5 linked regions of the Homo sapiens genome follow. The protein of the gene in region 4 purifies or fractionates together with the protein of the main gene of each other region. This does not show direct contact. Each region holds a gene or a part of one and is shown on either strand. Other genes may lie near its edges. The genes, in order: FAM234B, TRAFD1, VPS13A, XKRX and FLVCR1.

Region 1 (3,520 bases), on a different chromosome or scaffold from region 4:
TTCTGCCGTGGTTCCAGCTGGTCCCTCCATTTGGGGTCCTTGCCTTCCCGCAACAATCTGGTCTCCATATAGTGTTTTATTCTTTCATTTTATTAATTGAACAAACTGAGATATAATGTATGAAATGACATCACCAAGGCCATAGTGACCCAGAGGTAGACACTAGCATTAATAATTATTCTTTTCCCCTTTTTAATTAGCTGGGTTTTGTGGTCTTTTTTATATTTCTTCTGAACAAAAGATTTAATGATAGAGTTTACATTAGTGATAGATTACTGCATAAAGTCTCCCCAAAAGAAACATTTTCTTGGTTGTTACTTGGTGGTAACATGAAATAAAGGCATAAAATCATTCAGTCATTGGCAGTGAGGCCAAGGGGTGGGTGGCTTGGGAGGAGGTGTACCTAGGCTCTTCTGTAATTTCTCTCTCAGCTATCCCAAATCAACACTGCAAGCTAAGTAAAAACAAAGTGCTTGCCATGCAAAGCACCTTCAAGACAAGTCCCCTACCTCTGTGTACTGGCTAGATCACCACCCCTCCCAGAATACTTGCTCAGAAGAGCAGTTTTTGGGGTAAACACTGTTTACTAAAAGATAGACTGAAAGGGCATTCAAATCACAGGATGGTTCTTAGAAGTGAGATTTCAATACATCTTCAGATGAACATTCAGTGTTCAACTTTCTAAGTTGTTTCCATAGAAACAGTTGGGAAGCCACAGATATTGGGCTGTGAGAAGCAGCGTATGGAGAAGAATTGTTCTAAAAGTTTACCAGGAAAGATTAGGATGTCACAGATCTAAGAAGATCTGAGGCAATATGCACATTAGGCACATGGAGAGTTGATGTGGAGCCATGATCTTTTTCTTGAGTGAGATTCAAACACATTAAGAGAGCTTTCTTTTTAAACTAAAGGCATTTTAAATTTGCTAACTTCTGCCTCCTTTTCCATTGTCTTAAACTCATGCAGGCAGTGATCCTGGAGCACTGTGCTTTTGTTTTTCCTTCCATTCCTAACCCCTGCTTCACTGGCTTCTGTTTTACAGATAGCCACCAAGGTTCAAACTTGATGTAAACCTGGATTTTTTTGTTTTAGTTTTCCGTGTTCTTCTGGGTATTTACAGTTGCCATATATTTGGTGAGGGTGTCTTCTCCCCAGTTCCCCTTGACTCTCTGTTTTTCTGTATTTTCAGGGAAGAAGAGCCCAGACCTAGGGGAGTATGATCCACTTACCCAGGCTGACAGTGATGAGAGCGAAGACGATCTGGTGCTTAACCTGCAGAAGAATGGAGGGGTCAAAAATGGGAAGAGTCCTTTGGGAGAAGCGCCAGAACCCGACTCAGATGCTGAGGTTGCAGAGGCTGCAAAGCCACATCTTTCAGAAGTCACCACGGAGGGCTACCCCTCAGAACCCCTTGGGGGCCTGGAACAGAAGGCGGCCTCCTCCCTGGTGTCATATGTGCGCACGTCTGTCTTCCTGCTGACTTTGGGGATCTCGATGATCCTGGTGCTCCTGTGTGCTTTCCTGATCCCCTGTCCTCCCAGAGATCTGCACAGCACCTGGAGCCGCCACTTGGGCTCCCAGGGAGGTGAGCTGCAGAATCTTCAGCCCTAATCCTGTGAAACTTCATGCTATGTCTGATTACATTTAAATTTTCCTCCAAATCTTAAAACTTAATATGTGTCATGCGGCATTCCCCACCCTGCCGTCCCCACTGTGTGGAGGTGGCAAGGAGATTAAGATTTGAAAGAAAACAAACACCTCCAAAAACCTGGGAATCATTGCTCTGTTGTGTCTGTTGGCATTGGTCTTTATTAGATCCAGAGAGGACAGGGCTGGTTTGCTGGATTCCTGCTGTGGAGCCAGCACTGTATCAGGGGAATGCAAAGCTGTAGGAAGGGCTATTTACAGAGAAAAGCAAGGTTCAAGGCCTGGTTGCACCAGGGATAGAGCTCTTGCAGAACCCTTTGACATTCTTTGATGATAGAGGTCTGATCTAATTTAAATTATAAAATAATTTCATTTCCTGTAAAAGATAGTTGCTATCTTTTCTTTCTTGCTCCTCATGGTTAGGGCGGTGCTGTCTGAGTAATTCCAGCTATTCTGTCTCCTTTTTGGAGTAGGCTTCTTTAAAACCTCTTGCTCTGGAATGGGACTTACATCTCACCTGTGTTGAGTAGTCCTGTCTCTTGTGAACTGGATTAAGCTATCCTCAGACCCCTGGCATCCTCTTGATCTAGAAATGTTTATCTCTGCCACTTCTCTGATCCCAGTTGAATTAGCTTCTGATGAGTTCTGTGTTCTCATCTTTAGTTTCTCTGAAGGCAAGTTTCATTTACATATATTTATATACAGTTTAAAGGTAACAAATTGTTGGTGTGTCTACCACCCAGCTTTAGAAATAGAACATCATTGAGACCTTCACAATCTCTTGTGTGTCCCTCCTGACCACATCCTCCTCTGCCCAGCAAAGGCCTCTGCTATCCTGAATTTTGTGTTGATTATTCCTTTTTCTGTAAAGTTTTACCATGTCAATATGTACCCCTAAACTGTATATTCATTACTTTTGCTGGTTTTTAAATTTTACATGAATTTAATCATGCAGTCTTCTGTGAACTGCTTTTTTTTTTTTTTTTTGCGACAGAGTCTTGCTCTGTCACCCAGGCTGGGGTGCAGTGGCATGATCTCGGCTTACTGCAGGCTTCACCTCCCGCGTTCAGGTGATTTTTGTGCCTTAGCCTCCCGTGTAGCTGGGATTGCAGGAGCTCGCCACCATGCCTGGCTAATTTTTGTATTTTCAGTAGAGACGGGGTTTTGCCATTTTGGCCAGGCTGATCTTGAACTCCTGACCTCAGGTGATCCACCCACCTCGGCCTCCCAAAGTGCTGGGATTATAGTTGTGAGCCACTGCACCCAGCCTGTGACCTGCTTCTTTGTGCCACTTAATTTTTTGAAAACAATTTATTGAGATTCATCTATATTGATGCATTATACCTGGAGTTTATTCATTTTCACTACTGTCTGATTTTTCCATGGTATGAATATCTCATGATTTATCCATTTTTCTGTTGATGAACCTTTAAGTAATGCTTCCAGTCTTTTTTTTTTTAAATAAATAAATGATGCTGCTAAGAACATTTTTGTATATGTTTCCTATTGCAGTGTATAAGAATTTATCTAAGGCATAAACCTAGGAGTAAAATTGCTGGATCATACCATAGGGTGTGTGCATGTTCATTATTAGCAGTTTATGTTAAATTATTTTCCAACATGGTTGTACCGATTTACATTTCCACTAGCAATGTGTGAATTCTCTCCAAATTTGGTGGGCATCCTCTGAGTCCACACTTTTGGGTGGTGGGGGGATGGAAGTCCAGACTCCTCACTAGGCCTCTGCTGACACCACCCCCGTGGAGAGGAGGGAGAGGGCTGCCTTGTTGATGCTAGTTGGGGTGGAACTCCTTTGGTCCTGCTAGATGAGGATGACAGTCCTTGCCCCCACCTGGCTTTCTCTGACATGACC
Region 2 (2,293 bases), on a different chromosome or scaffold from region 4:
TGGATGATACTAAGCAGGAAACAGCTAATGGGCCCACCTCCTGTCTGCCTCCCAGCCGACCCATTAACAATATGACAGCTACCTATAACCAGCTATCGAGATCAACATCAGGCCCCAGACCTGGGTGCCAGCCCAGCTCTCCTTGTGTGCCGAAGCTCAGCAACTCAGACAGCCAGGACATCCAGGGGCGGAATCGAGACAGCCAGAATGGGGCCATAGCCCCTGGGCACGTTTCAGTGATTCGCCCTCCTCAAAATCTCTACCCAGAAAACATTGTGCCCTCTTTCTCCCCTGGGCCTTCAGGGAGATACGGAGCTAGGTAAGAATCAGTAGCCCAGGAATGGGGCTTGGGAGTAGCTGAAGCGAACATGGGCAAAGGCCTGGTTACCCTTGCCAGGCCTGGGGTAAGACTGAGGTACTTGCATGGTAAGGGGAGGAGTATGGATTTTCCCTGTATTGTCACCTGACTCCAAAAAAATTATTTTGTGGCCTATGGGTTTTTTGGGGTTTGTCTGCTAGCATAGGACTGCTTCCTGTTCCCTCTGAGTTTGTTGACCTTTGCTCAGGGACACTTCAGGAGCTAGTTTCTAATTGTTTTCTTTCAGTGGTAGGAGTGAAGGTGGCAGGAATTCCCGGGTCACCCCTGCAGCTGCCAACTACCGCAGCAGAACTGCAAAGGTAAGGTGGGCTCCAGCCCATGATGCTCAGTGGGGGACTCAGACATGGTGGGGCTTGTGTGGCTCCTGAAGTTGTAGAAGTTGTTGGGACCAGGCTGGTTGTGGTTCAAAGATTGTTCCTTTGGCTTTTGAGAAGGAGGTTTCTAAGGAAGCGGGACATTTTCGGGGATCCAGGGGAGGAGTAATGCTTTTTCACTTTTTATGTAAAGCTTCGTTTGTGTTGTGTTGTTCACCAGGCAAAGCCTTCCAAGCAACAGGGAGCTGGGGATGCAGAAGAGGAAGAGGAGGAGTAATGGTGTCTCCAGAGACTTTACATCGGTTCCTGTCTTCTGTGCACAGCAGCACTTGCCGCTGTGCAGGCCCACCTCTTTGGCTCTTTGGGTGGGAGAGTTTTTCCAGATTTTAGATTTTTCTAGGTTATGGCCATTTTGTGTCTTTTGAGGTTGTGCTGTGGGGGTTTGGGTTTGAGGGAAGGGAGCAGGGTGGCGGTTGAGGAACGCTTCAGCCTTAGCTGCTACCTTTCGGCAGCAGTGAAATACAAGCTGCAGCCTCGGCTGCCAGGGCTCCCTTTTGACTTATTGTCGCCACTGCCCCTTGGTGCTGTGTGGTCCCAGTGGAAGGAGGGGAAGATTTTGGAAACCTGGTAGCCACCAGTAAGGTGATTCTCTGCCCTGTTGGGGCCTAAATTTGGGGGCTTTTGGGCAACCTCTCCGTGTACTGCGTCTGTCCACACTCGATTGGGCCCCAGGTGTGTATGAGGCGCTCTGGTAAGGTGCTCAGGCCAGTTGCAATGTCTGTCAGTAACGAGGCTTTTGATGTGTTGAGCTGGAGGTGAGTGGACCGGGGGCTGTGTTTTAAGCTGCTTCCTTGGCATTTGGCATCACTGCCTTCTGTTCCCGGGGGAGCATGGATCTTTTGTCCTCACTGCTTTCTAATGGGGAGGGCTGAGGGCTCCCTGTCCCCACAGCAGGTATGTTGGGCTCTGCCCCAGCCCCACACTTGCTCTGAAAACCAAGTGTCAGAGCCCCTTCCCCTTGTTTTTATTTTACTGTTATAATAATTATTAACTTCCTTGTAATAGAAATAAAGTTTGTACTTGGAGTTCAGCTCAGTCTTGTGGTTCCTTCTCCTGTGTGCTTTAGAGACTGCAGGGAGGGCAGGGTAGGCTGGAGTCAGCCCTGGGGTTGGAGGAGGTGAGCAGGGCTGGGCTTTCTCCGGCACTCCAGTAACCCTCGCAGCTCCACCATGAGTCCCTTCTTGGAGTACACAGACATTGAACGTGTAGTGTTTTAAATTGGACTTCTGAGAAAACTGACAGGCTTGCTGCAGCTCCGGTGATGACTGGGGCTAGAAGGGGTGCCTCTGACTGAATAGAGAAAAGCAGATTCTTCAAAAGCCTTCATCCTGAGAGGAGTTGAGCCCTAGCAGGATTAGCTGTTACCCCTCAGTGCCTCCGTCTGCATAGGACCACTGAGCACCGTAGGTCATTTTGAGTTCCTTTGTTCTTCCAACAACCTGTTGGGGTGGGAAAGGTGGGAGGAACTGCCCTATTTCATAGATGGAACACTAGACACGGGAACCATGCGGCCAGTTCTTTGCAGAGGCAGGTCTCTGAA
Region 3 (3,520 bases), on a different chromosome or scaffold from region 4:
ATATGTGCATATAATGCCTTGATTCAAAATTCAAATGTAGAAAACAAATTTTGAATTCTTCTGATTAGTAGAAAAATTTTAAAAATGTCTCTTGGTTTTAGTTTTTTAAAGTAAAATTTGAATACTGAATTATGTGCCAGTTACTGTAATATGCATTTTACATGTGCTATTTTACTTAATCTCCAAACATACTCAGTGATTAGTTCTATTTTTCCTTGGAACAGAACAGAAGTAGGAACAGAAGCATCAAGAGGAAATAGAAACACCAAGTGTTCAATTAATATTCCCAAATTATTATGGAAAGAGTCCTAAGCCAGAAGTTACTGAGTTTTACATCTGAATTTTCTAATATTTTATTTTCTTGAATGTCATTTTACTATACCTGTTTAATAATTCTATTAAATCTATTTCAAGGGTATTTTAATGAGCTACTTTTCATGATATTTTCTTTTATTAAATAACTTTAATTTTTTCAAGGAGCAACTGTGGTGACAGCTGCTGTGGTAGAAGTACATTCACGTGCCTTACTAGTTAAGACAACACTAAACATAAGCTTCAAAACTGATGATCTCACCATGGTGCTGTATAGTCCAGGTCCTAAACAGGTAAGTCCAGGAAGAAAAGAAAATGTATTTTCACATGTGAAATTTGCATAGGTTGATGTTTTTAAAGTAACAAATGTTAATATTTAACATTTATTTTGTAGTATCTGTCCCTCTGAGAAAAATGATCTTTTTACTTTAATAATAATTATAACTATTTCCCTTTTAAATGAGTTATCTATCATATAGCTAATGTGAAAAATAAATTGTAAAATTAAAGTGATATGTATATATTTTTAGCCTTTCATTAGAGCCCTTCGGAGACAGAATTTTGATGTTTGTTATAAGCAGAGGCAATAATTTGTAGTAGTTCATATCATGAAATACACTTTAGACTTGTGTTTCTTTGTAATTTTGTGTTGGTTTCTCCTTTCATAGGCTTCCTTTACAGATGTTCGTGATCCTTCTCTGAAACTTGCTGAATTTAAATTGGAGAATATTATAAGTACTTTAAAAATGTATACAGATGGCTCAACATTTTCTTCCTTCTCATTAAAAAACTGTATTTTAGATGATAAAAGACCTCATGTCAAGAAAGCAACTCCTCGGTATGTATTGTAATGATGTTCTAAGGTTTTACTTGAGAAATCGTTGATATATTTTACAGAATTCATCTCCAGAATTGCACGTTCATTTTCTGAGTGCATCCTAGGTTCTTTAAAGCTTCAATTCAGTCAGCTCGTAGTACTCGGTTAACATTTAAAATGTCCTGGTTCTGTTATGTACTATTCTTACTGGATAATTGATAGATTGGTTGAGTAACTAGAAATAATCAGTGCAATTAAATTGGTTTTTACATTCTTTAAATTACATTCTCTAATATAAATCTAATATAAGTTATTGTTAATCCATGCTAATTGCAATGGGAAGTACATAAAAAATTGAAAAGAAAAAATATCCTGAGATTCAAACTCTTATAATTTATTGAACATACACTTCCTCATTTATGATACATTTGTGTTCCAGAAGTTTGTAAGTTTGTTATTTGGAACACTTTATGGATCTTCCCAAGAGACATGACTTCAGAATGCTTTTTTTTGTCAGTAAAAGAGATAAGAGGTCTTTGAGTTTTACTCATATGTTTGATTACTTCTAAGTTACTCATACATAGGAATTGTTGTTATTGTGTTTTCCAGAATGATAGGACTGACAGTTGGTTTTGACAAAAAAGACATGATGGATATAAAGTACAGGAAAGTCAGAGATGGTTGTGTGACTGATGCGGTCTTTCAAGAAATGTATATTTGTGCAAGCGTAGAATTTCTGCAGACTGTTGCAAATGTCTTTCTTGAGGCCTACACCACAGGCACTGCTGTAGAAACCAGTGTGCAAACATGGACTGCTAAGGAAGAAGGTTAGTTATTGGCTAAAATATTTAATATTTGTTTTATTGAAGTGCTACAACAGGACTTAACCTTGATTAGCCTTTTAGATCATCAAAGTAAATGCTTTAAGAAATTAAAATTTTATTTTTCAGAGTAGAAGGAAAACCTTAATGTGTTTTCTTGGAGGATGTATAGTTTGCATTTTTTAAAGGTGTCAGTATATATTGCATTTAAAAATTATGAAACCTATGTTAGAATAAGTAATTGTACTTCTCTTCAGGCAGTAATTTGAAGGAATTTGTCTAGTGGAAAAAAACAAGCAGAGCAAATAATGAACCAACCATACCTTTTCACAATTAAGATAATATTTCAATTTAAAGCACTCATTTATTTTTGTTGTATTTATTCCTAGCTTTTAACGTACGGTTTCTCTATTATCTTTTTATAATATGTGATTTACTGTGGTATAGTAGAAAGAGTATCAAGTTGAGAGTTAGAAACTAGATTAGTTTCTAGGCTTTCCAATTAAATAGTGGAGATTTCCCCTCATTTAAAAATGTTCTTATGCCTATAGCTTCTTCAAGTCTTTACTAAGGGTTGTAGTTGATTCCTTTGGGATCTAAGATTCTTTTGTTTTACTTTTTACTATTATTTCATTTTAATATTTTCTTATAAATAATAAATTATTCATAATATATAGCAAATATTTTAATCTATTTTTATTTGTTTTAGTACCTACACAGGAATCAGTGAAGTGGGAAATTAATGTTATTATTAAAAATCCTGAAATTGTGTTTGTAGCTGACATGACAAAAAATGATGCTCCTGCTTTAGTCATTACAACACAATGTGAAATTTGCTATAAAGGTAACCTTGAAAATAGTACAATGACTGCTGCCATTAAAGATCTCCAAGTGAGAGCCTGCCCGTTTCTTCCAGTCAAGAGAAAAGGCAAAATCACTACTGTGAGTTAACTATTTGATCATCTGCTTAATTGTAACTATTTTGGATGTAGTGTATACCATTTTAGGAAACAAAAACTACCTACATGCTTTCCAACCTTGCTCTGTAAAATGTCTTTCTCTCTGCTTAGAGAGCTTAATTTAGAATATTATTTACCAGCTTTGAAACTCTTTCATTCTTCCAGATGCTGCTCATTATTGTTAGTATTTGTGGGAATATTGTCACTAAGAAGTTGGGTTCATCTTGACAGTTTTCAGTTAAGATCTACTTTGACTTTCTAACCATGTCAATTCCAAATTGCTCTTTGGACTTTTAAGACTTTCTGCCAGTTGTTTGCTGTGTTGTTTCAATTTTATTGTTTCAACTTTTTTCTCCCGTTTGGATGTTTTTGCTCAAATAATGAGTTTTTCCTTGTCTCCATGTAACTTCATTTGAACCTTCAGCCATTTGCTTTGACATACTTCACATTGATATTTTACTCTCTAGTAACCTCTTGGCCTTCCTCCTCTTCATAACTCTACTTAAAATTCATTCCTTTACAGACATCTTTTCAAGTTAACTGGCTGACTTCCAGCGAATACTTACAAAAATATTTGAGCTTCTGAAGGAGTAATAGAAGCATAAGTTTTT
Region 4 (4,180 bases):
GACGTAATCTTGCTCTGTTGCCCAGGCTGGAGTGCAGTGGCGTGATCTCAGCTCACTGCAACCTCTGCCGTCCGGGTTCAAGTTTTTCTCCTGCCTCAGCCTCCTGAGTAGCTGGGATTACAGTCACGCACCACCACGACCAGCTGATTTTTGTATTTTTAGTAGAGATGGGGTTTCACCACGTTGGCCAGGCTGGTTTCGAACTCCTGACCTCAAGTGATCTGCCTGCCTCAGCCTCCCAAAGTGCTGGGATTACAGGCGTGAACCACTGTGCCTGGCCTTCATCTATATTATTACCAGGAGGCAGATGTGTTCTCTTTTTCTCTGAGGTTTAGAATTATGCAAATGAAGATATGAAAACAAAAGCTCAGTGAGGTGGGGAGGATTACACTTAAGAATACAGGTAATTTTCAAAGCTCTTTAAGACACCCCTCTCAGTTTTTACTAACAGCTCTCTCTTGGCTCTTTGCCAGTCTGTTTAGAATTTGGCACCTCTTCATAACCTTTCAACCAAAGACCTGTAAGTTCATTCTAAAGCTCCTATCCTGGCCTCATTTTGCAAGTGGAGAAATCAAGGCATAAAATATGAGCTTTCAGTGTCTGTGGGCTGACCTTGAGTCTTGACCTTTATCCTGTTCTATCTTCCCTCCGCCGAAAACTCTGACCCTATTCCTCCCAGGTTCCCCCTTCATGATATTATCTGGAGGGCAATAGGACCTAGGGAGGTTCCACCCTGCGGCGGAGGGAGACACACCTGCCTAACAGCGTGGGTAGAGTGAGTGTTGAAGCAAGTCACTTAACTAGTTAGGGAGGGCGGGGTAGAAGTGGGGGCCTGCTGCTCCTAGGGAGGAGTAAAGCTGTGGCTCCTGCCTGGGTCTGGAGGTGGTGGTCAGAAGTGCTTCTGAAGAGCGGCCCAAGCCCCTTTTTGTCCCGCCACTCCACAACGAGCATCCCTCGGCTGGCCGCCTGCCCGGGAACTCTCCGGCTGGTTTTGTTTGGCCGCAGCCGTCCCGCCCATCTCGCCCGCCCCCGCCGTCCCGGTGCCTTAGTTTTTGAAGCTGCCGACCTCTCGCAGCTGGAATCGCAGACCAGGCAGGACCCTGGCAGCAGACGGCGTCCAAGAGTTTGGCGACCTCCGTCCAGCCAGGTTGGCGCCCCGCACATCGTGCCTCTCACTAGCAAAGTTTCTCCGAGGAGAAGCAGCCCCTCCAGCCTTTTCTTCATCCTGTAGAGCGAGCGCGCTCTGCTTCTGTCCCTCAACACTGCATTCGGAGACAGGGTGGTGACAATACTCCACTCCCGGGCCAGGCGGTCTTGGGGGCGGGGCTTGGGGGAATCCGAGGAGCTATCCTGAGAACCCTGGACTCGGCAAAGGTCCTGAGAGCGCGCAGGTGAGCGGGCCAGCTGATAGCTACAGCCTAGCAATAGCTAGGATACCTAGGCACTGAACTGAATCCCCTCTTCTGCCCTCCTTCTTCTGCGCCCGCTCTTCTGCCCTGGCTCAGCTCTCCGCTGACTTGAGAGGACACACTGGTCAGGACTCTTTGTGAGGAGCTGCTGAGTGTCGGTGCCCCCGACAGATCGGCTACACCCTGCCTGAGGGGCTGCGAAAGGAGCCGCCACGGAAGCCGCTGTTCTCATGACTCTTCACGTCCCTGGAGTTGGACTCTGGATGGGGCGCTGGGATGCTTGCTTTTGTCTTGTTCAAGTTTCACAGCAAGTATGTTGACGATTGGAATCGGGGCCAATCAAGAGTCAAGTTCAAAGTGGTACTCCTGGGCTTTCCATCCCAGACTCCAAGTCGAATCTGAGTCTAGAAGAGAGCGGTTTCTTGCTCTAACTAGTGAATCTCTGTTCCCAAACTGGACTTGACAGAGCTCTCCTCACCTATACTTGGACTGTAGCGGCCATAGGGTTCTCTTGGGGATGGGTGGGAGGGTGCTATGAACACAAGACCACAACATTCAGAAAGAACCTCGACAATGGACAGAGTTTATGAAATTCCTGAGGAGCCAAATGTGGATCCGGTTTCATCTCTGGAGGAAGATGTCATCCGTGGAGCCAACCCCCGATTTACTTTTCCATTTAGCATCCTTTTCTCCACCTTTTTGTACTGTGGGGAGGCTGCATCTGCTTTGTACATGGTTAGAATCTATCGAAAGAATAGTGAAACTTACTGGATGACATACACCTTTTCTTTCTTTATGTTTTCATCCATTATGGTCCAGTTGACCCTCATTTTTGTCCACAGAGATCTAGCCAAAGATAAACCGCTATCATTATTTATGCATCTAATCCTCTTGGGACCTGTTATCAGGTGAGCAACTTTTAAATCTTTTCCTTACCCCCCTAACCCCACCCCAGACTTGGGCAGAGAAAGATGAAAGATTTACAAGATGGATACTATGGCTCTAATCAATTCTCTCATTTCCTCCCACTCTCGGCTTCCCTGTCTACCATTCAGAAAACTTACCTGAAATCTTAAATGCCACCATGATGAACATGTGGTATGTACTTGTGTTCCAAAACAATGAACGATGCTATTTGGCCTGTGTAAACTAGAATGGGAACAACAAGACGTGATCACCCTGTGCATGAAGGCCATAGCTGCAGAGTGTGTAATTTTATTTAAAAAATTTTTTTTTTCTGAGACAAGGTCTTGCTCTGCCTCCCAGGCTACAGTGCAGTGGTGCGATCATGGCTCACTGCAGCCTTGATCTCCTGGGATCAAGCGAACCTCCCACCTCAGCCTCCAAGTAGCTGGGACCAAAGGAATGTGTCACCATGCCTGGTTAATTAAAAAAAAATTTTTATAGGCCGGGTGTGGTGGCTCATGCCTGTAATCCCAGCACTTTGGGAGGCTGAGGCGGGTGGATCACCTGAGGTCAGGAGTTCAAGACCAGCTGGCCAACATGGTGAAACCCCTGTCTCTACTAAAAATCAGCTGGGTGTGGTGGCGCATATCTGTAATCCCAGCTACTCTGGTGGCTGAGGCAGGAGAATCACTTGAACCCGGAAGGTAGAGGTTGCAGTGAGCCAAGATCGGTGCCACTGCACTCCAGCCTGGGCGATAGAGTGAGACTCCATCTCAAAAAAAAAAAAATTTTTTTTGTAGAGACGGGATCTCGTTATGTAGACTGGGCTCAAGTGATCTTCCTGCCTCAGCCTCCCAAAGTGAGCCACCGCGCCTGGTCTGAGTGTGTAATTTTGACTCTACCTTTTGGATGCTTTGTAAATTGGATAAAAGTTTCTTTACCCTGAGCTGCTTGGGCTGGTGCTACTGCCATTTTCAAATTTTCCAGAGTAATGTGACATCTGGAAACTATTTTAAACCATCTGTGGTAATCTGTACCCCAACCCAATATAGTTCAGTTCTCTGTCGGTTTATCAGTTTCCTATTTATCTCTTTGTATATTTCTGCAATAAAGATACGAAGTTGGGAGGGGGCAAAGGAAGGCAGTTCATCTCTCTATGTGGATGCAGTAGCACAATTTAATAGTATCAAGTATTTCCATTCAGATTGCCTTGAAGTGGAAAGAATGCACTTAATCCTAGCGAGATAGGCACCTGTGTCAACAGTCTCATCTGGATGCTATGGGGTTTTCAAGGTAGAGAGATGTTGCAAAACTTATGAGTTCAGGAGTAAGGAATGGACCAAGTTTGTCTTGATTGCAAGAGAGGCAGACAACTGCAGTCAGCCGAGGAATATGGGTCAGAGTGTTGCAATGGGAAGATACCTCATCATTAGACAACTAAAAAGTCTGTGAAACTAATTAAGGATGGAACTCACTCCTTTATAAAATTTCATATCTGTACACATGTATAATTTTTATTTGTCACTTATACCTCAATAAGGCCAAAAAAATTTTTTATCAATAAATTTTTAAGTGGGGAGGAATCGATTAGGCTCTATCAGAGAGAATATGGGATATCAATGGAAACAGTGGCCTGAAATTTGGAGTCTAGTCTTCCCCCTGTCATTGACTGGTTGTGTGTTCTTGGTAAAATCTCTGAAGATGGCTTCACAGGAAGGCATATAGAGTTCCCTCATCTGTAAAGCAAATGGGTTAGTCTAAATCATGGGTCTCAAACTCAAACACTTGCAGGGACCAGGCAGGTATCATAAATGAATGAAGCAGGCCTAGTATAAGAAAAAACAGTAGCCTTGTGTGAGATGATA
Region 5 (3,609 bases), on a different chromosome or scaffold from region 4:
AGATAGCCTACATGTCCCCATTTAGTGGAGACCTCTTGAATGCTATTTGAATTCTGCAGTATCATTTTTATGACCATTCTCCTTTGAGGAATACTATGCCCAGGTACATGCTCTATCAGTGTGCCGGGAGAGTGGATTCTTTTCTTCACTGCAGAGTCATCACACTGTTAGAATAGTCTGCTCTTTTACATGCTCAGGTAGGGAAAATAGGACCAAATATATTTCCACAGTGCCTACCACTGTGTCATGTTTACAGTGAGAGTTTAAATATTGTTGATGTCCTGACTCTGTGAGCTCATAGGGAGTATCTTCATAGTAATGACATTTGATCAGCCATAAAATTTACATTATGTTCATATGCACCCAAAAAAGCTAGTCAGGTAATGAATACCCTTGAAGTGAATAGCAATTTTGATTTAGGCAGTGTGTTAGGCCATCCTTGCATTGCTATAAAGAAATATTTAGGCTGGGCGTGGTGGCTCACGCCTGTAATCCCAGCACTTTGGGAGGCTGAAGCGTGTGGATCACCTGAGGTCAGGAGTTCAAGACCAGCCTGGCCAACATGGTAAAACCCCATCTCTACTAAAAAAAAAAAAAAAAAAAAAAAAAAAAAAAAAGGCCAGGCGCAGTGCTGTGGCTCATGCCTGTAATCTCAGCACTTTGGGAGGCCAAGGCAGGTGGATCACAAAGTCAGGAGTTCAAAACCAGCCTGGCCAAGATGGTGAAACCCCATCTCTACTAAAAATACAAAAATTAGCGCAGTGGCAGGCGCCTGTAATCCCAGCTACTCAGGAGGCTGAGGCAGGAGAATCGCTTGAATGCGAATGGCAGAGGTTGCAGTGAGCGAAAATCACACTACTGCACTCCAGCCTGGGAGATAAAGTGAGACTGTCTCAAATAAATAAATAAATAAATAAATAAATAAATAAATAAATAAATAAAACCTGAGGTTGAGCACGATGGCTCACACCTATAGTCCCAGCACTTTGGGAGGCTGAGGTGGGTGGATCATTTGAGGCCAGGAGTTGAAGACCAGTCTGGCCAACATGGCAAAACCCCATCTCTACTAAAAATACATACACACACACACACACACACAAATTAGCCGGGCATGGTGGCACACGCCTGTAGTCCCAGCTTCTTGGGAAGCTGAGGCATGAGAATTGCCTGAACCTGGAAGGCGGAGGCTACAGTGAGCTGAGATTGCGCCACTGCACTCCAGCCTGGGTGACAGAGCGAGACTCTGTTTCAGGAAAAAAAGAACAGAAATACCTGAGACTGGGTAATTTATAAATAAAAGAGGTTTAAGTGGCTCACAGTTCTGCAGGCTGTGTAAGCATGGCACCAGTGTCTGCTCGGCTTCTGGGGAGCCCTCAGGGAGCTTTACTCATGGTGAAAGGCTAAGTGGGAGCAGAGATGTCACATGGCGAAGCAGGAGCAAGAGAGCAGGGAGGTGCCACACACCTTCAAACAACCAGATTTTGTGAAAACTCACTCATTACTGCAAGGACAGCACCAAGCCATGAGGGATCCACCCGCAGGACCCAAACACCTTCTATTAGGGCCAACCTTCAACATTGGGGATTACATTTCAATGTGAGATTGGAGGGACAAGTATCCCAACTATATCAGGCAGAATATATGCATTGATATATATTGAAATTATAACATTCTCTATAATCAAGTGACTGTAAATTATGTCGAATCTGACCCTGGGGAATGTGTTATCTAAAGAATTTGACTAAGAATCAGGAACTCTGTGTCCATGTCCTGGATGTATTTCTGTATGTTCCTATAACTCTGGACAAATCATTAAACCTCTCTGGGCAGCGTTTTCCTCATCCATGAAATGAATGTGTTCAATTTGATCTCAAAGATCTTTCCAAAATATTAAATGCCATTAATCATGGAATAGACCAAATTATTGTATCACAGGAACTTGAATCCAGCCAGAGAAAAATTCCCTGGACAATTGGATAAACAAATGTGATTGCTACCTTATGGATACAACGGACTTTTACATTTCTTTTTAGCCTTTTTAGTCAGTTGAGGGTAACTCAAGCAGAGTATGTCCAATCATTAGCTTCCTTTGATATTTACATTACAGGTAAAAACGGCCAAAAATATATTTTAAGGTCTCTCCCCAAATGTTTTTATTTTTAAACTATCAATGTTGTTTAAAATAATCATGTACTTGTTGAGTTCCTGAGGTTTGGAACAAATTACACATAAAATTTAGAATACTTTATTTCTGAAAAGCATATACATATATGTTATGTTTATTTTTCCTTGTTGATTAGAAAGGTGATGGAATATGTGACAATGCAAAATGAATTGATAATTTTTCTGTATTTTGAGTGAAAGTTGTCTGTAATATGTCAAGCAAGAATGTTATAATTCTACAGTAATGTGTGACTTCATGACAGAGCTACATTCTGAGAAATTTGTCATTAGGTGATTTCATCATTGTGTGAACATCATGAAGTGTACTTACACAAACCTAGGTGGTAGAGCCTACTGCACACCTGGGCTAGATGGCAAAGTCTGTCGCTTCTGGGCTACAGACCTGTACAGCATGGTACTGTATTGAATACTGTAGGCAACTGTAACACAATGGTATCTGTGTAATCTAAACATAGAACAGATAATACATTGTGCTACAATGTAACAATGGCTGTGGCATCACTAGGTGATAGGAATTTTTCAGTTCCATTATAATCTTATAGGATCTCTGTCATATGTGGTCAATTGTTGATCGAAACATGACTGTATGTCGTATTTTCAGAAAATGGAATAGGTAATCATCACTTGTGTGAATTTTAATCAAATGACTTAGGAAAGAAACTGGATGTTTCAAAAGCTGTTGCATTTATTACAAATGTCACAAATACAGCTCTTGCCTTTTGAGAATGTTGGAGAGATGTCTTTAAAAAATATGTTTGTGTGTAAAAATGTGTCTGTATGCAATAGCTAGAAAAATGCCTGTGTCTTAAGTCATTACTCATGTTCTAATTTTTGTTCTTTGTACTATTTATCTGTATGCTTGTTCTTCAGTATTTCAGACTCAAAATAAATTTATTTTTTTATGTTAATTTTCTGTGACTTTTTGAAAAATTCTGATGCTTAGGTACACATGGGGAGTTTAAAGGGATTATAAAATTTCAGAATGGGCAAAGAGGGAATGAGGTAGTGCATGGAACATAAAATGAGGAAACAAAGTCTACCAGGGTCAGGGCTAAAATAGATACTAAAATATTTTATTCCTTTAAAAGTAACTTTAGAGAGTGATGTTAGCAAGATGGCAGAATAGGAGCTTTATATCATCATTCTTCCACAGAAGCATTGATTTTTACCAGTACTTTCAGATGGTAGTTCTTTTGTAGGAATCCAGAAGTCCTACGTGGAAGTTCCAGCACACCATTGGAGCAGAAATATCTGAGAATAAATGCATTAAAGAAAAGGAAGAAGAAGATTTTCACTTTATCTGCATCACTCTTTGAAGTTGGCACAGCTTAGTGGCAAGAGAGACTCCCCTCAGTCCACAATTTCTCCCATGGGAGAAGGTGATAGCATAGTGAGAGTGCTCAGCCCCTAGCTGTGTGGGATGCT

Evidence for each region.
Region 1: the proteins of XKRX (region 4) and FAM234B purify together in Homo sapiens (affinity purification with mass spectrometry; 2 studies listed by BioGRID and IntAct, with this or other methods). This does not show direct contact.
Region 2: the proteins of XKRX (region 4) and TRAFD1 purify together in Homo sapiens (affinity purification with mass spectrometry; 2 studies listed by BioGRID and IntAct, with this or other methods). This does not show direct contact.
Region 3: the proteins of XKRX (region 4) and VPS13A purify together in Homo sapiens (affinity purification with mass spectrometry; 2 studies listed by BioGRID and IntAct, with this or other methods). This does not show direct contact.
Region 5: the proteins of XKRX (region 4) and FLVCR1 purify together in Homo sapiens (affinity purification with mass spectrometry; 2 studies listed by BioGRID and IntAct, with this or other methods). This does not show direct contact.

The regions. Positions count from the first base shown.
Region 1 is NC_000012.12:13,054,362-13,057,881, forward strand, and holds part of FAM234B (protein FAM234B), read left to right. Parts: intron 1-1,189; coding exon 1,190-1,585; intron 1,586-3,520.
Region 2 is NC_000012.12:112,151,822-112,154,114, forward strand, and holds the end of TRAFD1 (TRAF-type zinc finger domain-containing protein 1), read left to right. Parts: coding exon 1-319; intron 320-605; coding exon 606-678; intron 679-913; coding exon 914-970; 3' UTR 971-1,783; downstream 1,784-2,293. UniProt on the Homo sapiens protein: Negative feedback regulator that controls excessive innate immune responses. Regulates both Toll-like receptor 4 (TLR4) and DDX58/RIG1-like helicases (RLH) pathways.
Region 3 is NC_000009.12:77,313,515-77,317,034, forward strand, and holds part of VPS13A (intermembrane lipid transfer protein VPS13A), read left to right. Parts: intron 1-477; coding exon 478-605; intron 606-980; coding exon 981-1,150; intron 1,151-1,738; coding exon 1,739-1,956; intron 1,957-2,659; coding exon 2,660-2,892; intron 2,893-3,520. UniProt on the Homo sapiens protein: Mediates the transfer of lipids between membranes at organelle contact sites. Binds phospholipids. Required for the formation or stabilization of ER-mitochondria contact sites which enable transfer of lipids between the ER and mitochondria.
Region 4 is NC_000023.11:100,926,107-100,930,286, reverse strand, and holds the start of XKRX (XK-related protein 2), read left to right. Parts: upstream 1-1,369; 5' UTR 1,370-1,943; coding exon of another isoform or gene 1,944-1,982; coding exon 1,983-2,317; intron 2,318-4,180.
Region 5 is NC_000001.11:212,896,272-212,899,880, forward strand, and holds the end of FLVCR1 (choline/ethanolamine transporter FLVCR1), read left to right. Parts: 3' UTR 1-3,092; downstream 3,093-3,609.